Homo sapiens: one gene and its partners. The protein of the gene in region 1 purifies or fractionates together with the protein of each later gene. This does not show direct contact. Each region holds a gene or a part of one and is shown in the gene's direction. Other genes may lie near its edges.

Region 1 (8,077 bases):
CTCAGTTGATATAGCAGCAACAGAGTTTGAGAGGAGAGGATTGAGTTCAATTTTGAAAGATGTTCTACTGTGGGTAAAATGCTATCAAACCAAATCACATGCTACAGAGAAATCTTTCAAGAAAGAAAGAGTCAGTTGATGGTGGCAAACTTTGCTGTTGTCTTATTTTAAGAAATTACTGTAGCCACCCCAGCCTTCAGCAACCACCATCCTGATCAGTTAGCAGCCATCAAGATCAAGGCAAGAAACTCCACCAGCAAAAAGATTATCACTTGCTGAAGGCTCAGATGATTGTTAGCATTTTTTTTTTGAGAAGGAGTCTCACTCTGTTGCCCAGGCTGGAGTGCAGTGGCGTGATCTTGGCTCACTGCAACCTTCGCCTCCCAGGTTCAAGTGATTCTTGTGCCTCAGCCTCTCAAGTAGCTAGGATTACAGGTGCCTGCCACCACGCCTGGCTAGTTTTTGTATTTTTAGTAGAGATGGAGTTTCACCATATTGGCCAGGCTGGTCTCGAACTCCTGACCTCAGGTGATCTGCCCACCTTGGCCTCCCAAAGTGCTGGGATTACAGGCGTGAGCCACCAGGTCCAGCCGATTGTTAGCATTTTTTAGCAATAAAGTATTTTTAAATTAAGGTATGAGCATTTTTTATAGACATAATGGTATTGCACACTTACTGGACTATAGTATAGTATAAACATAAGATTTATATGCATCGGGAAAGCAAAAAATTTATATGACTTGGTTTATAATAATATTTGGTTTATTCTGATAGTCTGGAAGTGGACTGGAAATATCTCTGAGCTATGCCTGCCCATTAGTTTCTTGGTAGCTGTCTTGGTTATCAGGTTGGAAAAAAAAGTGTATACTAAGTTTGGTACTTTCTGTGGTTTCATGCAGCCACTGAGGGTCTTGGAATGTATCCCCTGCAGATAAGGGGGAACTGCCATCATCTGCTAAAGACCACAAGAGTTTGGGCTACAGTGATGGAGCTCACTCTTGAGTAAGTTATGGGAGAGTTCGGTAAAGTTGTTTTCTGTGAGGATATTTTAGGAAGTCCTAGATCTATTATGTTGCCTCAGCAAGATAAGAGGTGTCTCATTGGGTATAAGCCCAAATACCTGAAAGGGCCTAGGAAGGTAATTTAAACGAGACTGACAGCCCATTCCCAGTCTAAAGGAGTCAACATGGCTTCAGTCAGTTGTTGACATATGGGAATACAGTGTGAAAGCAAAACTGGAGGCCCATATTATTAAATTTGAAATTTCCCAGTTTTAAAATAGTGGCCATTTATTTAAAAAAAGTTTAAATACTTTGTGTGTGCTAAATAATCATTAAGGACGCTTCCAATACTTGCTGTTTAACTCAGTGGTCCTAAAGCAGTAAAAATAAGCAAAAAAATCACTAAAATTCGTATAGCCGTTTTCACTTCCCTTCATGTTACTTAGGTATAGAGCAGTATATTTTAAGGAATTGTTCACTCAATATGTACTCAAACCAGTTGTGTTCTCTCCATCCCACTCTCCTACCACCAGCTCAGGCAACTCCACATCTTCAAGAAAACAAAGTATAGCTCCAGCCTCACAAAAGATTGAGGACCTGGCTCTAACCTTTCTAGTTAAACCTGCTTTGTAAAAATTCGCTTCCAACTTCAAGGAAGAGCTAGTTCCTAAATTACTTAAACTGCTACTGTTCATTCTTCAAGGCTAGCATTACTCTGATACCAAAACTTGTTACAGACAAGCACAAAAATCAGTAACAATGGACCAATTTTATTAATTATAAATACATTTTAATCCTAAATAAAAGATTAACAAATCAAACCCAGCATGGCTTTCATTTGATCAAAAAATAATAGAACATGACAAAGCAGAGTTTATTTCAGAAATGTAAGAATGTGTTGAACACTAGGAAATCAATGAGCATAATTCATTATATAAAAGAGTCAGAGTAAAAAACAAATATAGTGATAGAGGCTAAGAGACAGTTGGTAAAATTTTGCACTCTTTCCTGATTTAACAGCATGTAGTAAAACAGGATAGAAGAAAATTTCTTTAAAGATGATAGTGTATTTTCAGAACACCAACTAGCAGGCGCAGTGGCTCACGTCTGTAATCCCAGCACTTTGGGAGGCTGAGGCGGGTGGATCACCTGAGGTCAGGAGTTCGAGACCAACCTGGCCAACATGGTGAAACTCCATCTCTTCTAAAAATACAAAATTAGCCAGGCATGATGGCATGTGCCTGTAGTCCCAGCTACCCGGGAGGCTGAGGCAGGAGAATTGCTGGAACCCAGGAGGCAGAGGTGGCAGTAAGTCCAGATTGTGCCACTGTATTCCAGCCTGGGCGACACAGCGAGACTCCAGCTCAAAAAAAAAAAAAAAGAATACCAACTAGCACTAGCACCAAATGGGCACATGCTTGCCTTACTGCATTAAAGCTGGATATCCATTATCTTGTCCTGTAGTCTTAAACATTTTTCTGATGTTTTGACCAATGCAATAGGAAGAAAGAAACGCATTATTTGCAGGTGATAATGATTGTCTGTGTACAAATTCATAGAGATGAGCTGTCAAGCTATTAGAACTAACAAGACATTTTTTCATAGTGTGGTAGGATACAAGGTAAATAAACAAAAGTCAATAGCTTTCCTAAATTACAGCAATAAGAAATATCTCACTTACAAAAAAACTATAAAATATCTAGGAACAAACTTCCCAAGGATTATGCAAACCTATGTGATTTTTTTTTTTTTTTTACAGATGCTGATGCAGATCTGAAAAAAAATTGTTAATGCATCTAAAGATACAGAAAACAAGTATTTCTGAATGGAAAGACCCATGATATTGAAAATTTTGAAAAAGAAGAGAATTAGGAGAGGTTCCTTTATGAAAAGGCAAATATATTAAATATGTAATGATTATAACTGTGGCATATTTTAGGAATAAGCAGATAATTAATAGAGGAGAATGTTCAGAAACAGATATATACGTGTATGTATACCTATGTATATGTATATGCAAATTTAGGTTGTAATTAACAGTGGCACTTCAAAGTAGTGAGGAAAGAATATTCACTAAATGACATGGGGGCAACTGGTCAACCATTTGGCAAAAATAATCTCTTAGTAAACTATTTTATTTCCAGGAATTAATTCCAAGAAGTAAATGGACAAATGTGAAGAAATGCCTGTTGAAGGATTTTTTTGGGATAGTGAAAAATAGAAAACCACTCAAACGTCTATTCAGTAGATTATTTCAAATGTGTGTGTCTATTTGTGTGTACGTAGTATACGCATAAGTTATGGAATGCCATGAGTCTACTTTAAAATATGGCCGGGTGCAAGATGGCTCACACCTGTAATCCCAGCACTTTGGGAGGCCAAGGCAGGTGGATCACCTGGGGTCAGGAGTTCGAGACTGGCCTGGCCAACATGGCGAAAACCTGTCTCTACTAAAAATACAAAAATTCGCGGGACGTGGTGGCGCACATCTGTAATCCCAGCTACTCAGGAGCCTGAGGCACGGGAATCGCTTGAACTCGGGAGGCGGAGGTTGCAGTGAGCCAAAATGGCGCCACTGCGCTCCAGCCTGGGCGACAGAGCGAGGTTCTGCCTAAATAAATAAATAAAATGATGAAACAGATTTAAACTTAATGGAATGGAAGGATAGCCACATAATCTTTAAAGTGAAAAAAAAATCAGGTTCTAAATCTATAGGTATTCTTTGATTACATTTTTTTCAATGTGTAGAGGCATAGAAAAGTCCAGAAGGATCTATAATGAGCTGTTTAATTTTCATTTCCTATGGGGTAGATCCTTTGTTGCATGGAAGATTATTTCACTCTGTTAGCTCTCTTTACATCAGTAGGAATACATCCTCATGGTTTTAAACATCTTGAGGGAGCTTTCCTGACACTCTACTCTAGGTAAATATGCTCGCATAGCACTCTCTATTCACCATATTACCTATAAATCATATTGCACTTTTTAACTTTTCTAAACTACTTTTTGCTTTCTTTTCTAGATTATAAAATCTTGAGGGCAGGGATAGTATGTAAAGGTTCCCTTGTGAGCAAATAACCGTCACTTATTGAACTCTGTGTGCCAAATACTGTGCTAAATGCTTTCAATAATCTCACTCATAGGGAGATATTACTACCATCTCCATTTTGAGGATGAAGATATTGAAAGATTATGAAGTTTCTCCCAAATGCCATTGCCAGGCCTGTGTGACTCTTGGTCGTTACACGGTGATCAATAAAAATTTGTTTCATAGGAAAGAAATACAGCCAGCCGTGGCTTTAAGATCACTGGGTGATACAGTTGGACCAGAAACCCTTTAAACTCCTTCGTCAGACACAGACTCGCAAGCCCCGCCCAGGACGACCGCCCGCGCGCGTATGGATAAGCGTGCAGGGGCGGGGCGAGCTTGTAGGAGTGGGGCGGAGACAGATCTGACTGGCCAACGTCGGGCGGAAGTCGGGAGGTTGGGTGGTCTGTAAACGCTGGCTTGTGACAGGGAGGGGGAGGAGGAAGGCCTTCGTAAAGGTTGCATCTCCGTCCCTTCGCTCCCGGGGACCCGCGGGAAAAAAAAAAATCCAACACCCAGGCCCCGCGGCTAGCCCCTTCCCACAGGCTCTCTCCGCTCGATTTTGTCACCGTTATGTGGGAAGCGAATCCAGTGAGTAGCCGGGCGGGACGGGGCGGGCCCAGGGGGCGGGGTTGATGAGAGAGGGGCGGGAGGGGGTCACCGGAACTGCTTCCCCGCGCTCGCTTCAGTCTGGGTGTTGAGTTCCGGGACCGGAGTTCCCGGGCCTTTTGGCTTCTGTAGTCTGTACCTTTTTAAGCAGTGGAAGTGCCTGGGTGGATTCTCCAATGCTTTATTGTTTTCTTGTTACAATTATTTATTTTACTTCCCGTGATGTTTCAGCCTCATCCCTTCACCATTTGTTGTTGTTGTTGTTTTTGAGACGGAGTCTCGCACTGTTGTCCAGGCTGGAGTGCAGTGGCGTGATCTCGGCCCACCGCAACCTCCGTCTCCCGGGTTAAAGCGATTGTCGTGCCTCAGCCTCCCGACTGCCTTCACTGTTTTTTGAAACTTTGTGTTTTGCTTTCTAATTGGAGTAACTGGCCTTGGAACCTGTAGTCAGTCATTTGCCTCAGGTTTACCTGCCAGTCCCACCAGTCTAAAGCAAGGGAATTGGGACCCCCTTGTCTTGAATGGGCCTAAGAGGAGCCATCAGTTCTCCTTTTCCCTTCTTGGTGGACAGTCGTTTAAAACTTGGAGTATGGACTGTATGTTCTTAGATGTTTTCGTTCGGTGGACAAAGTGATCTGGAGCATTTCAACTGCAAGTCTGCCTTCTTCCTTGGCTGACTCTGGTATTTTCATTATGACTTCATGTGTCTTTGTCTACTTTGCTTTTATACATTTATTTATTTAAAGTGCAACGTAGGGGCCGAAAACTTTAGTACCTTTCCTCACCACCCATTGTAAGGATCACAGCCACCACTCCTTAAAACAGAAGATAGGTTAACAAGGTAAAAGCAGAGCAAATCTAATCAAAGTTTTACACCACCAGGCACTTCAGAGACCAGGGAGATCTCTATTTTTATGCGTAGGACCCATGAAGAATAGACAACTGTGTAAAAATGTGACTGGACAAAGGATATACTCTAATGTTAATAAACTGAGGAAGGAAGCCCAGCAAGGTCTGTTTGTTCAGATTCTTCTTGGCCTCTCTGTGTATCATTTCTTCCTCCTACGGAGGAGGAAGGTCCCTTCTGGAATGAGGGTCTTAGCGACCTACTATCAGGCAAGGTAGATTAGAGAATTTCTTTATGGCCAGTTCCTATAGACAATGGCAGGGAAAGCTTAATAGTTCCAGTTTTTATGGCTTGCTTTGTAGGAGAGGGATCCTAGTTTCTATCACTCACCTTGGGGAAGAATTCTGGTTTCTGTGACTCACTTCTGGGACGAAAGATGGGCAGGAGACAGAAGGGCAGGAGATCAGAGGGAGAGACTGCTTCCGAGGCTGCTTCTGAGGCCTTCCAATCTCTTTTAGTTCAAAGTATTCAGCATGCCAAAGTGTCATACTTCGGGGTAGTATTTTCTGAGCCCCAACACAACCCTCAGAGAGTGGGATCTATTTGCCAAGAGTATTCTTCTGTTGTTATGGTTGAAACTGCCTGGTAAGGTGGCAGATGTATGGTATTTAAAACTTAGGAGTTGACTGGAAAAATGGTAGAATCACATTTCAGCAAGTTGTTGGACTAAATACAGTCGTGCGCCTCCTAACAATGGGGATATGTTCTGAGAAGTTCATTGCTGGGTGATTTTTTTCATTGTGCCAACGTCATAGAGTGTACTTTCATAAGCCTGCTACACACCTAAGGCTATATGGAATAGCCTATTGCTCTTAACCTAGAAATCTGTACAGCATAGTATTGTACTGAATACTGTAGGCATTCGTAACACAATGGAAAGTATTTATGTATCTAAACATAGAAAAGATACAGTAAAATAAAGTGTTAACAATCTTTGGGACCACTTGTATATGCGATCCATGGTTGACTGAAAGCTTTTATGCAATGCATAATTGTGTATGAAACATAAGAAACTACTCCTATGCTGAGATAACTGCATAAATTTACTTTAATAACCCCTAATTTCCATATTTGCAATAATTTCCTATAATCAGTATTCTTCCCCTCTCATTTCTGGAATATATTTCCAGATAAGTTAGAAAGTTTATCAGTACATTTCCCTATGTTTTTAAGTTAAGTTTTTATCCAGTAGAAACTAGTCTGTTGGTCTGGATTTGGTAGTTGCACATTATGGTTCCTTCTTGTGCATCATATAACAATAGTCATCATCTTAGTATTTTCGATTCATACGTATAATACTCTCTTCAAGCTGCATTAGAGGAAAGTAATTACTTGTATTTGATTTTAGCAAAAATAATTTAGAATAATGAGAATGTGCTCTCTGCTTATATATTCAGTTTCACTATCTGTCATCAACAACCTTCATTTTGTATTTATATCTTTATGTAGCTATTATTCCCTTTTTGTTATCAGTCCTTCTTAATTTTTCCATAACAAACCCTTTAGCCACCCAAGTATATGTCTTACTCAAGGTTTTAAATCTTTCACTATATTGTAAGATCCACAAGGACAGGGGTTTTTCTCTGTTATTTTTCCTATAGTATCTTCAACTAGAGAACAGAACCTGACACATAGTAGGCACTCAATAAATATTTGTTGAATTCATGATGGTGGTTGTACCAGCAAGGACTAAAGATAATTCTTTGCTCCTACTATGAATTTTCCCTCCTGCGTCACACATACATCAGAATTTGCTGTTGGATTATTTGTGTGTTTGTGAGAATTATAAAGGCATTAATGAATGTCTTATATACTTGATTTGTTATATCATTATCTCATTTCTTTGTAAGCAATGGGTTTTCTTTGAAATCACCTGTGTGATTTTGCTAATTTCAGCAGAGCAGGCTGACTTTTGTTAAAAGTGGGGAATCCTCCACAGATCATCTCACATTCTTCTTTTGCCACCCAAATAAGACATATTTGTCTTACTGCTACTGTATTTTATTACTACTAATAGTTTTTCTTCCTATAAGCATATGAATGATATCAGTAAGCGCAATTTGGTTTTAAAAATCAACATTCTACGTGTGGGTTTCTCTAGTAATTTGTTAGTTTATTTTAGTTTCGCTTTCCTGGTTTCACTTACCACAATTTCACTTACCAGAAGTCAGCTGCGGTCTGAAAATATGAAATGGAAAATTCCAGAAATGAACAATTAATAACTTTTAAGTTGCATACTGTACTGTGTAGTGTGATAAAATCTCATGCCATTGTGCTCCATCCTGCCTGGGGCCACGAATCATCCCTTTGTCCAGCATATCCACACTGCATATACTCTACCTGCCTGCTGGTCATATAATAACATGTAATGTCACTCACTTATTTATTGAGCACCTGTTATAAGCTAGTTAGTGCGAAGTCCCAGGGTTTACAGTGGTGAACAGAACAGACTAGGCTCCAGCCTTTATGGGT
Region 2 (7,866 bases), on another chromosome or scaffold:
AGCGATCCTCCCATGTTGACCTCCCAAAGTGCTGGGATTACAGGTGTGAGCCACTGCACCTGGCATTAATTTTGTTTTTTTTTTTTTTTTTGAGACAGGGTCTTGCTCTTGCCCAGACTGGAGTGCAGTGGCAAGATTACAGCTCAATGATGCTTTGAACTCCTGGGCTCAAGCAACCCTCCTCTGAGTAGCTAAGACTACAGGCACATGCCACTGCACTCAGCTAATTTTATGTTTGTTTGTTTGTAGACAGCAGGGTCTTGGTACGTTGCCCAGGTTGATCTTGAACTCCTGGCCTCAAGTGATCCTCCCACTTATTTTTGTATTTTTTGTAGAGATGGGGGAGGGAGTTGGGGGTGGTGGGGTGTCTCACTGTGTTACCCAGGATGGTCTTAAACCCCTGGACAAAAGTGATCCACCCCCCTCAGCAACCCAAAGTGCTGGGATTACAGGCGTGAGCCACCATGCCCAGCCCTTTCTTAAATTTAAGCAAACAAATTTTAATAATGATGGCTGACTCCTGTAATCCCAGCACTTTGGGAGACCAAGACAGGAGGACCATTTGAGCTCAAGAGTTCGAGACCAGCCTTGGCAACATGGTGAAACCCTGTCTCTACAAAAAATTTAAAAATTAGCTGGGTGTGGTGTGCACGCCTATAGTCCCAGCTACTTGGGAGGCTGGGGTGGGAGGACGGCTTTTGCCCATGAGGTGGAGGTTGCAGTGAGCCAAGATTTTGCCATTGTCCTCCAGCTTGGGCAACAGAGCCAGACCCTGTCTCAAAAAAGAAAAAAAAAAGCCTAGGCAACATAGTGAGACCCCATCACTACAAAAAATAGAAAAAATAGCTAGGTGTGATGGCACATGCCTGTAGTCTCACCTACTCAGGAGGCTGAGGCAGGAGGATCACTTGAGCCTGGGAAGTCAAGGCTGCAGTGAGCTGTGATCACATCACTGCACTCCATCCTGGGTGACAGAGTGAGACTCTGTCTCAAAAAAAAAAAAAAAAAAAAAAAGGAAAGAAAGAAAGGGAGGGAAGGAGGGAAGGAACAAAGGAAGGAACGAAGGAAGGAAGGAAGGGAAGGAGGGAGGAAGGAAGGAAGGAAGGAAAAAAGGAAGGAAAAATTTAGGCTGGGCACAATGGCTCACGCCTGTAATCCCTAGCACTTTGGAGGCCGAGGTGGGCCGATCGTGAGGTCAGGAGATCGAGACCATCCTGGCTAACATGGTGAAACCCCGTCTCTACTAAAAATACAAAAAAAATTAGCCGGGCGTGGTGGTGGGCGCCTGTAGTCCCAGCTACTCAGGAGGTTGAGGCAGGAGAATGGCGTGAACCCAGGAGGCGGAGCTTGCAGTGAGCCGAGATTGTGCTACTGCACTCCAGCCTGGGCAACAGAGCGAGACTCTGTCTCAAAAAAAAAAAAAATTAATTTAAAAGAAATTTTTTTTGAGACTGAGTTTCACTCTTGTTGCCCAGGCTGGAGTCCAGTGGCTCGTTCTCCACTCACTGCAACCTCTGCCTCCTAGGTTCAAGCGATTCTCCTGCCTCAGCCTCCCAAGTAGCTGGGACTACAGGCATGCACCACCAGGCCCGGTTAATTTTTGTATTTTTAGTAGAAACAGGGTTTCACCATGTTGGTCAGGCTGGTCTTGAACTCCTAACCTCAGGTGATCCACCCGCCTCAGCCTCCTCCTGCTGAGATTACAGGCATGAGCCGCCATACCCAGCTTTTTTTTTTTTTTTTTTTAAAGAACATGATTCAACTGTATTGCTCTCTATAAGAAACTCACTTTATAGACTGGTTCTGAAAGGATGGAAAAAGATATTTCATGCAAATATCTTTTTGCGTGACCAAAGAAGAGGAGGGCTGGCAATACTAATATCAGAAAAATTACTTGTCCAGGCCGGGCACGGTAGCTCACACCTGTAATCCTAGCACTTTGGGAGGCCGAGGCGGGTGCATCACCTGAGGTCAGGAGTTTGAGACCAGCCTAAAAAATATGGTGAAATCCTGTCTCTACTAAAAATACAAAAATTAGCCAGGCGTGGTCGTGCATGCCTGTAGTCTCAGCTACTCAGGAGGCTGAAACAGGAGAATCACCTGAACCCAGGAGACAGAGGTTGCCGTGAGCTGAGATCACACCACTGCACTCCAGCCTGGACGACAGAGCAAGACCCTGTCTCAAAAAAAGAAAAAAGAAAAATTACTTGTCCAAAAGGTTACAAGAGATAAAGAAGGCATTGTATGTTAATAAAAAGTTCAATACAGCAAGAAGATATAACAATTATAAACATTTATATACCTAATAACAGACCATCAGAACATATGAAGCAAAAATTGGTAGAATTGAAGGAAGAAATAGACAATTCCACAATAATAGTTAGAGACTTCAATGCCCCACTCCCAAGAATAAATAGAACAAACAGGAGACAAGTAAGGAAATAAAGGACTTGAGCGACACAGTAAGACAACCAGGTCTAACACATGTACAGACACTCCCCAGCAACAACAGCATCCACATTCTTCTCAGGCACACATGGGATATCCTCCAGGATGGACCATATGTTAGGCCACAGATTAAGCCTCAAGAGATTTTAAAAGGTAGACATCAGCCAGCTGTGGTGGCTTAGGCCTGTAATCCCAGCACTTTGGGAGGCTGAGGCAGGAGGATTGCTCGTGCCCAGGAGTTTGCAACCAGCCTGGGCAACACAGCCAGACTTCATCTCTACAAAAAGAGACAGAAGAAAAGGAGAAAGAGAGAAAGATAAGAAGGAAAGAAAGAAGAAATAAAAGAGATCATACCAAATATCTTCTCCAAGCACAATTGGATAAGGCTAGAAATCAATATGGGGGGGTTAAAAAAAAAAAGAAATCAATATCAAAGGAAAACTGGAAAATTCACAAATTTGTGGAAATTTACACACTCTTAAAAGAACCAATGGATCAAAGAAGAAATCACAAGGGAAATTAGAAAATACTCAGAAACAGGCCAGGCTGGGTGGCTCACACCTGTAATCCCAGCATTTTGGGAGGCCGAGGTTGGCGGATCACTTGAGGTCAGGCGTTTGAGACCAGCCTGGCCAACATTGTGAAACCCTGTCTCTACTAAAAATACAAAAATTAGCCAGGCGTGGTGGCAGGCACCTGTAATCCCAGCTACTTGGGAGGCTGAGGCAAGGGAATTGCTTGAATCCAGGAGAGGGAGGCTGCAGCGAGCAGAGATTGCACCAATGCACTCCAGCCTGGGCGACAGAGTGAGACTCCATCTCAAAATAAATAAATTAATTAAATAAATAGAGAAAATATTGAGAAACAAATGAAAACAAAAACACAGCATGCCAAAATTTACTGGACACAGTGAAAGCAGTGCTCAGGGGAAATTTTATAGCTATAAGTGCTTCAAAATCATAGACAGAAAATTGCCAGGGCCTGGGGGTATGGGGATGGGAGGAGGGAAGAGGAAGTTATTGTTTAATGGGGACAGAATTTCAGTTTCAGTTTAGCAAGAAGACCAGAATTTTAGAGATAGCTGATGGTGATGATTGCACAATATGAAATGAATGTACTTTGTTGTTGGGGTTTTTTTGTTTTGTTTTGTTGTTGTTGTTGTTGTTTTTTGAGAGGGAGTCTCGCGCTGTCGCCCAGACTGGAGTGCAGTGGCAAGATCTTGGCTCACTGCAAGCTCCGCCTCCCAGGTTCAAGCCATTCTCCTGCCTCAGCCTCCCGAGTAGCTGGGACTACAGGCGCCCGCCACCACGCCCGGCTAATTTTTTGTATTTTTAGTAGAGACAGGGTTTCACCGTGTTAGCCAGGTTGTGTTTTTGTTTTTTTTTTTTTTTTTCAGACGGAGTTTCGTTCTTGTTGCCCAGGCTGGAGTTTAGTGACTGTTGGAGTGAGTGAGCCATCTTGGCCCACGGCAACCTTCGCCTCCCAGGTCAAAGGCTTTTCCTGCCTCAGCGTCCTGAGTAGCTGAGGCTACAGGCATGGGCAACCACGCCTGGCTAATTTTAGTATTGTTAGTAGAGACGGGGTTTCACCATGTTGGCCAGGCTGCTCTAGTACTCCTAGGCTCAAGCGATCCGCCCACCTCGGCCTCCCAAAGTGCTGAGATTACAGAAGTAAGCCACCTTGCCCAGCTCCTTTGTATAAATAAATGATATTGATTTTCTTCTTGCAGCTCAGGAATTAGATCTGTTATTAGAATTTGCTTAAATTTAAGAAATGGCTGGGTACTGTGGCTCACCGCTGTAATCCCAGCACTTCGGGTTGCCGAGGCAGGCGGATTGCTTGCGTCCAAGAGTTCGAGGCCAGCCTCGGCAACACAGTGAGACCCGCCCGCTCTCTGCACCACTCCTTCCCCCCCTCCTTTCCCCGTCTCTACAAAAAATACAAAAATAAATAAATTAGTCCGGCATGGTGGTGACTGCCTGTGGTCCAGCTACGCAGGAGGCTGAGGTGGGAGGATCGCTTGAACCCCGGTGGTCGAGGCTGCAGGGAGCCATGATCGCGCGCGCCACTGAACACCAGCCTGGGCGACAAAGCAAGACCTTGTCCCAAAATAGATTAAATAAATAAATAAATAAATTTAAGGAAAAAGCAACTTGATTCGAAGATAAATAGTGATAGTGCAAGTGGTGCCGAACTAACGATAAATTTGGAAAACAGCGGCCCACGCGCAGAGCCCGTCCCAATTCTGGCAGCCTTTGGATTTGGCTTCCACGTTTTCCAGATTTCCCTCGGCCTCTAGCTCGCTTGCGTCAGAGGGGCCCCGAGGGGCGGCCCACCCGCTAGCCCCGCCCCCAACCGCTCACCGCCCCGCGAGCCCCGCCCCCTCGGCCTCCTCCTCATCGGCCGCCGTTGCGCGGCGCAGAGCGGCAGCAAGATGGCGGCGCAACAGCGGGACTGCGGGGGTGCTGCGCAGCTGGCGGGGCCGGCGGCGGAGGCTGACCCCCTAGGACGCTTCACGTGTCCCGTGTGCTTAGAGGTGTACGAGAAGCCGGTACAGGTGCCCTGCGGACACGTGTAAGCGGCGAGCCCGGGCCTGGTCGGGGGGCGCTTAACTGGGAAGGGAATGGAGCCGAGGAGCGAGATGGGTCTCAGGGCGGGAGCCAGAGGACCCACCCAGAGGGGCCTCCCGGGGGTGTCCCCCGGGGCTCCTAAGGGCCGTGAAAGCTGCCGGGGCGCTCTTCTGTCCCGCCCCGCTCACTCCTAAGTATCCCGTTCCTCCGCCCGTCTTAGCGGGGCAGCTGCTGTCTGTTGAGCGCCTGCGATGTTCCAGGCGGCCTGTCAGTCTCCTTCCCACACGTGATAGTGGACTCGTGCCCTGCGGGGACTTTAGGCTCCGAAGTCCGCCCTTGGAGAGCCGACGTTTCCTTTCTAGTCCACGTCGCTCTTAAAGCATAGGACATTTGGCGTCGTGTCTAGCTGTGGCGAGTTATTCTACTGTGCACTAAAGTCGGGAGAAACGCTGAACTAGACTAAAACAACAAAAGGGAAGTCTTTATGGGGATCTGGCCAGTTTGCCCTTAGCTGTGAAAGGGGGGTGGGAGTTGGCAGATGGGATTGTTAGCATTCTACTTCCTGTGTAGGAGGTTTGTTTCTTTCAGTTTTCAATTAAGCCTTCATGACCTGAATATTGTGAATAGAGTGGTTATAATGATTAAAGCAGATATGTGTATAAATGTCCAGTCCAGGTCCTGGGCTGTGGCCGGGGCTTTCGAGGTTGGTCAGGTTGGTCGATTTGAATCTAAGCCTTGTTCCATCAGACGCACAAACACATCTGAGTTGAAAGAATTGTAGACAACGTGGCCACCTGCTTCTTGCCTCAGAATTGGCTTTTCCTCTGGCCCCTCTCAGTGCTTATCGTGGGATCACCTTGGCATTGGTCTTGGCAGCGGGCACAGTAGCCATTGCACTCCATGGGCATTATTCTATAGCCACCCTGCAGCGGGGGAGGGTTGGCAGCCATTTTACAGGTGAATACACTGAGGGTCCGAGGCTCTCTTAGGGAAGGGTCACCGTGGCCTAGCTCTTCCCAGATGTACTGCAGGTGACCATTTCAGTAGTCCAGAGAACAGTGCTTGGCACCTAGCTGGCTGCTTTTTGCTTCATCATGTTGCTTTAGGCTATTCATCTTTGCAATTCGGTTAGCCTGGAACTCTTCCCCCCACCCCTCCCTTTTCAGGCTTCAAGTCCCAGGTTAAGTTACCTCACCAAATACCATCCCCATCTAAATTACTTCCCCCACTTCCTTTCTGGGACTTAACTTCCTTCTCCTTGCTTGCACAGAGCAAAACTTAACAGCTCATGACGGAGTGGCCATATCTTTATTGCCCCTGAACTGACTGGAATGGCCTCTGTGTGCCAGATTTTGGGGTAGACTCTGCCTTCAGAGTTTACAGTCCAGTGAATTGATTATAAATAAGTACCAATGACTGGTCAAACTATTGTAAAAATTCATTCTGCAAGTGGGAGGGTATTTCAGGGATCACACCTCTGTGCGTGGGGTGAGTGATCAGGTAATGGTTGAATGAACTAATAAGTCGTGTAAGCAAGCTTCACGAGAGTTGAAGTGGTCTTTAGCTTTTTCATTGAATCCACTTATCCTTGGATCAGATTTACCTGATTTTGGATTAATTCAGTGGATTTCATTTACTATTAACATTTGTAAAAAGGCTAGACCCAGCACAGTTTGCTAAATGAAGAGCAGCAAAATTTGAGATTTTCTTGAGCTTGGTGAACCTTTCCTAGGTCAGAGGGCAAGGAACAGTACTGGTTTTCAAACCTTGGCTCTTCTCTATCCTCGCTGTCCTAGCCCCACGTGATCAGCAGTTCAGTGCAAATTGAAGACAGATGGAAGCACCTCTGTGAGGGCAGCCCAAATCCCCGCTAGCTCCAACCGACTGCTTTCTCCTGTGCCTAGTTGATTTTTACCTTTTGTGCTTGGAAAGTTGAGCATCACTGCAACTCTGGCTGGGGCATTGGATTTTTATAAAACTTTATTTCAAGCCCTGAATGACTGTGTTCTCCAATCTGGTAGAATACAGCTGGAGAAAGGCAGCTGGCTGGGTGCCCAAGAGAAGGGAATTTCTTCCTAGCACTGTGACGGAGTGGAGCATCGGAAGGCTGAACTAGAAAAGGGCGCATAAGTAGGAAATAGAAACTGAAAAGCCATCCCAGGATATTTGAGTTGTTCAAAAGCAGGCTGGTAGTTTGGGCATGTCTCAGGCACAAAGTGACTCGTGAACATTTGATAGATGAGCTGTACCTGTGTGTGTGCTTGAGAAGAGACTTCGAGCTGCTTTTATCTGCATGCTGGGTTTGGTTCCATTATACTCACTGGACCCTCTGTGCTCTCTTGGGTTCCTCTTGTCATCTGCCTTTGTGAACAGGCAACACAAGTGATGGCCACAGGCCCTGCCTGTCTCTACTGCCTCATCACTTGCCCTTCTCACCATGGTCTACCGCATCATGGCCCCCAAGGTCTGCCTGCCTTCCTTTCCAGTCCTCATTTGTGTGTGGCGTGATCTTGGTGTGGAGCTCTGCACCCAGATCTGTGTGGCTGTCCTCGTAATCAGGTCCCACCCAGCTCAAATGCCAACTCCTCAGAAGCAGCTTTCTATGATCACCCCAGCTGGTCTGTTTGCCATATTTCCTTCATATTTTTAATCACTATCTGAAATTAACATTTGTGTTTCCCTTCACTCTAGAATGTAAGCATCATGAGAACAGGGCTTTGTCAAGTTTCCATTGCCCTCAGTGGTGAATGAATAGACTCCCTCACCTTCTCTGTACCTGGTCTGGAATTTTGCCTAACAGCATTAACATCTAACTTAATGACAAGGAGGAAGGAGATTCTTAGAGGCA
Region 3 (6,820 bases), on another chromosome or scaffold:
CCACATTCTTGCCCATGGCTCTGGCCCACGTGGCTCCGGCGGAGCTGTCCTTCCAGCTTGTGTCCATTCTTACCTCACTCTGGCCGGTTCCTACACCACGGCCAGGAGGACGCATTTAGCCTCACGTCCCCATTTAAATCGTCCCCGTCTCTTGGGATCAAAGCCAAACTTCCACCTGGTGTGTGCTGCCCTGCCGGCTCCCTCTGGCCTCTCCTCAGCCCCTCCCTGGCCTGGGCCTCCGCCACCTGGCCTCCCTCCCTGTATTCTTCAAACTATCCAAGTGTGCTCCCTCCTGCCTCGGCCACTCTGTGTGTGCCCTCTGCCAGGTGTCCCGCAGCCCACATGTCTACCTGCCCCTCCACCCTTGGCTGTGCAAAACTCCAGGCCTCCCTGGGACCGTCACCCCAAAATGCTGAGGCGGCAGTTGTCACATGACCTGTCTACTGTCTATCTCCCCAACCAGGGGTGCTGAGGGGACCAGGTCTGGTGGGTCACGGTGCTGTCCGCCTGGGCCTCACCAGCAGAGGCCTGGCCTCTTTCCATAGCGCTGTCCCCACCCTGGGCCTGGATCTGTTTGGTTGGGGTGAAGAGGGGTGAAAGGGTCAGGCGGCAGGAGCCCTTTGGATGGTTCGGAGCCATCCCAGACTCCGGGTTGCCCCTCCCCCAGAAGATCCCGGTTGTCACCGTCCAAAAATAACCTTTCTGTGGGTATGTGTGCCAGGGCTGGGCCACACTGCCAGTGGGTATGTGTGCCAGGGCTGGGCCACACTGCCAGTGGGCAGAGCCAGGCCCTTTGGACAGTGGGGCATGACAATGACAGCTGCAGAGGGGGTTTCCTGCCCAGAGGGTTGTGCCACTCTTGGGGGGTGCCCCAGCCCGTGTCCTCTGCTGCATTCTCAACCCTATGTGGCCCCCCCAGGTGATCGGGCTGCTGGACGTATTCACTCCTGATGAGACCCTGGATGACTTCACGGACTTGTGAGTGCCGACCTGGGCTGGCCGCTGGGCACGAGGGGTGTTGGGCAGCTCTGGGCACTGGCTTCAGGTTCTAGGTTGGCAATGGGGTTCTCTTCCTGCAGCCTGAGTGGGGGATGCACACCGCCCACCCCCTCCCCATACCACTGTCCACCCCACGCCCTCCCCCACATGGTCCTGGGACCCACGGGCACTGGCACAGCTGGGCAGAGCTGGGGCTGCTGCCTCTCTCCACGCCTGGCACCTGGGCCCTCTCCAGCACCGGAGGTGTGAACCTTGGACCTGACCATTTGTTAACAGGAAGGTCCCGTGCTCGGGACCCTGGCACCAAGTGTGTGGCCGGTAACTGGAGCTGCTGACCTTTTCCAGCGGGTGGGGGAGAAGCGGTAGGGAGGACCCACCCTGCCCCTGCCCTGCAGCCGACCACCCTGGGACTCACACCCTGTCGGCCAAGAGTGAAGGGCCAGGCCGAGGAAGGCCTGGAGAGGGTAGCAGGCGCCTCCCGCCTGACTTGCAGAGGTCAAGTCAGTGGCCTCTGGGAAGGTGCTAAATACCATTCTCCTGTGTCTGTCTCCACCGGCCCAGCCGACCCCTCTGACCCAGATGCCTTGCCGCGCCCCCATCGCCCCCAGGCACCTCCCTCATTTCTGGCACAAAGTTGTGAAGTTGAAACCTGACTGCCTCCCTCCCCTGCCTGTGAAGACTCGAGTCCTGCTGCCTCTACCATGGAGCCTCAGCCCCTAGCCTGGCACGCAGGGCGCTTCAGCGGAGGGTTCAAAAACCCCAAGGCAGCCTCCTCCCTGCCTGACAGTCCTCAGGGTGGGAGGGGGGTGTGAGCGCTGCTGGCAGTAACAGTTGCGGGAGGATGGAGCCTGGCACTGCAAGGTGGGGCTGCGAGGACACCGAGGCCAGTGTGGATGTGTGCTGCAGGGGTGACCTTCCTGGGGGTGCCTGTTGGATCCGGGACGGGTCTGAGCCTGGGCCTGCTGGGTGGGTCTCTGGGATGCAGAGGCTGGCTCTGTCCGCTGACAGCGCTCCGGCCCCTCCCACAGTTACCTGGTGATGCCGTTCATGGGCACCGACCTGGGCAAGCTCATGAAACATGAGAAGCTAGGCGAGGACCGGATCCAGTTCCTCGTGTACCAGATGCTGAAGGGGCTGAGGGTACGGGCCCCGGGGGAGGCTGCAGGGAGGCAGGCAGGGCCTCGGGGCTGGGCAGAGGAGGGCCCTGTGGCTCTGAGAGGGTGCGCTGAAGCCTGCCAAATCCTCTGCCCCCCGCAGTATATCCACGCTGCCGGCATCATCCACAGAGTGAGTCCCGGTGGAGAAGCCGCTCATCAGCCCTCCCCCAGTGCAATCCCCCCGCCTCCACGTCCCACCTGTGAGGATGTGATGGGGTCTGGGTGCTGAGCCACGCCCTATGCACAGCCCCTGGTGGGAACCTGCCTGGGTGCCCAGGTACCTTGGTCTGCCCTTGAAGGGCTGCAGAGAGCAAGGGGGCCAGGTCCGGTGGCCCCATCTTTAGGTGCCACCCAGGCTCTTGGCTGTGCCCATGCTTGGGAGGGTGGGGCACAGTGGCCACCTTTCCTCTGCCCCCAGGACCTGAAGCCCGGCAACCTGGCTGTGAACGAAGACTGTGAGCTGAAGGTGTGTGCTGCCTGGCAGGGGGCCCTGAGGTGGGGCAGGGGCCCCCTCTGGATCTGCCCATCTATCCACCTGTCAGGCCTGGGCAGGGGGCCAAGGTCCCAGGCTCTGGGCAGTGGCTGAGGAGCTGGTGGGTGGGTGAGCCCAAGAGGCAGTGGTACACAACATGCCGTACCCAGGGCACCTGCTCCGTCCCGAGGGCTGCTGGGCTTGGTGCACTGGCCAGAGGGAGGAGCTCGGGGCAGTTTGGGGTCCGAGGGCGTGGCCTCAAGTCCTTGAAGGTTGTCAGGAGGCCCCAGCTTGGGAGCTTCAAGTCCAACCCCCCGGGGTCTCCTGGACCGTGGGTGGCCTGTCCGCTCCTTGGGAGTCCCCTAGAACCCACCTCCCCAATTCTTCCCACAGATCCTGGACTTCGGCCTGGCCAGGCAGGCAGACAGTGAGATGACTGGGTACGTGGTGACCCGGTGGTACCGGGCTCCCGAGGTCATCTTGAATTGGATGCGCTACACGCAGACGGGTGAGAAGCTGCCCAGAGATCTGGGCCTCTCAGGCTGCACCATCTGCTTCTCCACTTCTTCACGGACAGCCCTGTGGTGGCTGCTCCCAGGGAGGCTGTTGAGCTGGGGTGGGAGCCGGGCAGGTGGGCTGTGTTGGTGTCTCCTCCCTCCCCGTCTCATCCTGTCCCCCTGCCCACGGAGCTGACCAGGGCTTCTATCTCAGTGGACATCTGGTCTGTGGGCTGCATCATGGCGGAGATGATCACAGGCAAGACGCTGTTCAAGGGCAGCGACCGTATCCTCCAGCCGCAGGGCGGCACCAGGGGCGGGTGGGGATGGCTCCTGCCCAGGTGGGGGCAGTGGGGGCCCTGATCTCTGGCCCCCGAGCTGTGTTCCTGACCTCGGTGCAGACCTGGACCAGCTGAAGGAGATCATGAAGGTGACGGGGACGCCTCCGGCTGAGTTTGTGCAGCGGCTGCAGAGCGATGAGGTAAGGGGTGAGTGGGGAGCTGGGTGGGGGTGGGGGCGGACCTGGGCCTTGGTGTTGGCCCCTCACCCTTTCTTCCCACACAGGCCAAGAACTACATGAAGGGCCTCCCCGAATTGGAGAAGAAGGATTTTGCCTCTATCCTGACCAATGCAAGCCCTCTGGGTACGGCTGGCTAGTGTGGGGGCCACCGGGTGCTGGAGTGTGGGGCCTCCCGTGGTCTGGCCTGATGCACCTTCCCCCGCAGCTGTGAACCTCCTGGAGAAGATGCTGGTGCTGGACGCGGAGCAGCGGGTGACGGCAGGCGAGGCGCTGGCCCATCCCTACTTCGAGTCCCTGCACGACACGGAAGATGAGCCCCAGGTCCAGAAGTATGATGACTCCTTTGACGACGTTGACCGCACACTGGATGAATGGAAGCGTGAGTGGGGGGCTCCTGGCACGGCCTGTGTGGACCCAAGTGGGGGGCTCTGGGCAGGGCCTGTGTGGACCTGTGAGTTGGGGGCTCCGGGTAGGGCCTGTGTGGACCCGTGAGTTGGGGGCTCCGGGTAGGGCCTGTGTGGACCCTGTGGGCCCTGTGCAGGTGGCCAGGCTCAGAGTCCTAGATCCCCATCCCTGGGATGCAGGTCAGGTGAGGAGGATGGGAGGTCAGGGCAGCATGGGGCCGTGTGGCCTGGTGGAGATGACCTCTGGCTGGAGCTGGAAGTTGAAGGGAAGGGTGTTCCTGGCAGGCTCAGCACAGAGGCTGGCACAGAAGGAGCCGGGAGTGGTGAAAGGCAGCTGTGAGTCAGGGAACCAGGGCCCACTTAGCCCCTCCTGGCCCCCAGACCTGCTGCCCTTCCGCCATGTCCAGGCCAGAGACCTGGGCCACCCTGACACCCTCACCACGTCCGCTTGTCCCTAAGGCCTCTCTGCTCACACCTCCTGAATCTGTCCTTGCCTCTCCTTGCCCCATTTTTGTTTTTTGAGACGGAGTCTCACTCTGATGCCCAGGCTGGAGGGCAGTGGCACGATCTTGACTCACTGCAAGCTCCGTCTCCCGGGTACACACCGTTCTCCTGCCTCAGCCTCCCGAGTAGCCGGGACTACAGGCGCCCGCCACCAGGCCTGGCTAATTTTTTGTATTTTTAGTAGAGACGGGGTTTCACCGTGTTAGCCAGGATGGTCTCGATCTCCTGACCTCGTGATCCGCCCGCCTCGGCCTCCCAAAGTGCTGGGATTACAGGCGTGAGCCACCGCGCCCAGCCCTCTCCTTGCCCCACTTTAGGATCCCTCCCCCCTGGACAACTGTATACCCAAGACAGTCCCCAGGGCCTCGCCTGTCTCCCCCAGCCCCCGCTAAGCAGTCCAGACTCCAACCCCAACTGCTGGGGTCCATCATCCCCTATACCAGGGGCTATCCCCTCAACTTGGAGGGCTGGCCAAAGCCTGTGCAGCCTCAGGCTGGACTCAGAGAAGCCTCCCCAGCTCCCGCAGCTATGCTGCGGCCTGAGGCTGTGCTGGACCTGGCTTCATTTCTGCTCCAGGATGGCAGGCTGTGTCTTCTTCATGGCTGCATGACCAGCCTGGGGTGGGTGTGCCCGGGGAAAGTAGGTGTACACTGGGAGCCGTGCCATGTTTCAGGCCCTGTCCTGGCTCTGCCTCGGGTGCGGGACCTTGGTCCTCCACACTGGCTGGGTGGGGCTGGATGGGTTGAGATTCACATGTGCTCCTTACGACCACGGGTCCCTGGGTGCCCGCAGCAGGGCCTCCACCCTTCGCTGTGTGCATATTCGTGTGCTTATGAGTTTGGCTTTGTTTGATTAAAGGTTTCTGCTGCTAGAAAGATAACTTGAAAGCCATGGGCCATAGGATCCTCTCTGTAGTCCCCACCCACACAACTGTGGCTGAGGCCTCAGCTCTTAGGACAGACCGTGGTGGACATGTGGCCAAGCCCTGGCCACCTCCCCTTTCCCTGGAAAATCCAGATCTAGAGCAATGGCCTCTTCACACAAACCTTCTCTCAGTGGTTCAGACCACATTAGGATTAGAGAAGGGCCCCACGAGGCACCGCCAGGCGTGTCTGTGAGCGACTCCCAGGATGGAAGGCAAAGGCTGACCCCCCTCTCTGTTGTGCCCGCCCCCCCACCCCCGCCAGGTGTTACTTACAAAGAGGTGCTCAGCTTCAAGCCTCCCCGGCAGCTGGGGGCCAGGGTCTCCAAGGAGACGCCTCTGTGAAGATCTCTGGGCTCCGGGGTGGCAGTGAGGACCACCTTCACCTTCCACCTGAGAGGGGACTCTCGTTGCCACCTTGACCTTGGCTGGGGCTTGCATCCCAAGGCATCCATCAGAGCAGACGCCCGGGTTCCATGGACCCTCCTCCCCACGGCCATGCCTCTGCTCTTGGGCGCCCATCATGGAGGAGCACCTGAACTTTCTGGACAAGACCTCTGGCCGACCTGGGGATGGCCTCTGATCCCTGGAGCAGTGGCCCACTTGCCCGGTGCTCTCAGAAACCTCAGAGCTGGTGGGGCTCCAGATCAGGCCTTGGCCTCTGAGCCCTGCCTGCTCTGGGCCATGCAGAGGAAGGACAGAGGGTGGGCGCAGGGCACCAACTCAGGGACATCCCCTCTCCTGGGCGACGTCAGTGGACCTTCCTGCACCCCCAGCCTGGAATGTAAATCAGCTGTGTGGTGCCCGCGTGGCTGGAAGGAAATAGACCCTTTTGTAGCTCCCTGTTCTGGCTGTGCGTCCTCATGCCGGGTCCCACCTTAAGACCTCCGGGCCCTTGGCCTGCATGTAGAGGAGGCTGGCCTGATAGCTCAGACCCTTAGAGCCAGGAGGGGGGCCTGAGCATCCCATCTCTCCCAGGCCACAAAGCTGGTGCCCACTTCCCCCAGGCCTGTGCCAGTGATCTTCGAACCCCCACGTTAGGGCTTGGCCCCTCCCCTTTTACGGGGTGACCTGCTAATGGCTTAGACTCTAAGCCACTGTGTGTGGATCCTGAAGCCAGACCCAGGGGCAGGGCCTGATGGGGAGGAGTGTTAGGATCTACCCTAGCTCTCTGCATCCTCCAATGCCAGCAGGTCCCTGGGGGGAGGGGGCACGCTGGGCACGTTGAGACCCCTGTGGTGAAGTGGTGAGCGCCAGCCAGTCCCTGGGGGGACGGGGCACATTGGACATGTTGAGACCCCTCTGGCCCCTGTGGTGGATTGGTGAGCGCAGAGGGCTGGGTTTT

Evidence for each region. The genes of interacting proteins can lie anywhere in the genome.
Region 2: the proteins of PARP11 (region 1) and RNF114 purify together in Homo sapiens (affinity purification with mass spectrometry; 4 studies listed by BioGRID and IntAct, with this or other methods). This does not show direct contact.
Region 3: the proteins of PARP11 (region 1) and MAPK12 purify together in Homo sapiens (affinity purification with mass spectrometry; 3 studies listed by BioGRID and IntAct, with this or other methods). This does not show direct contact.

The regions. Positions count from the first base shown.
Region 1 is NC_000012.12:3,869,815-3,877,891, reverse strand, and holds the start of PARP11 (protein mono-ADP-ribosyltransferase PARP11), read left to right. Parts: upstream 1-4,492; 5' UTR 4,493-4,662; coding exon 4,663-4,680; intron 4,681-5,935; exon of another isoform or gene 5,936-7,720; intron 7,721-8,077. UniProt on the Homo sapiens protein: Mono-ADP-ribosyltransferase that mediates mono-ADP-ribosylation of target proteins. Plays a role in nuclear envelope stability and nuclear remodeling during spermiogenesis. Inhibits the type I interferon activated signaling pathway.
Region 2 is NC_000020.11:49,931,531-49,939,396, forward strand, and holds the start of RNF114 (E3 ubiquitin-protein ligase RNF114), read left to right. Parts: upstream 1-4,866; 5' UTR 4,867-4,882; coding exon 4,883-5,022; intron 5,023-7,866. UniProt on the Homo sapiens protein: E3 ubiquitin-protein ligase that promotes the ubiquitination of various substrates. In turn, participates in the regulation of many biological processes including cell cycle, apoptosis, osteoclastogenesis as well as innate or adaptive immunity.
Region 3 is NC_000022.11:50,252,401-50,259,220, reverse strand, and holds the end of MAPK12 (mitogen-activated protein kinase 12), read left to right. Parts: intron 1-919; coding exon 920-978; intron 979-2,027; coding exon 2,028-2,139; intron 2,140-2,256; coding exon 2,257-2,286; intron 2,287-2,574; coding exon 2,575-2,622; intron 2,623-3,021; coding exon 3,022-3,136; intron 3,137-3,339; coding exon 3,340-3,411; intron 3,412-3,526; coding exon 3,527-3,606; intron 3,607-3,689; coding exon 3,690-3,768; intron 3,769-3,850; coding exon 3,851-4,024; intron 4,025-5,740; coding exon 5,741-5,820; 3' UTR 5,821-6,320; downstream 6,321-6,820. UniProt on the Homo sapiens protein: Serine/threonine kinase which acts as an essential component of the MAP kinase signal transduction pathway.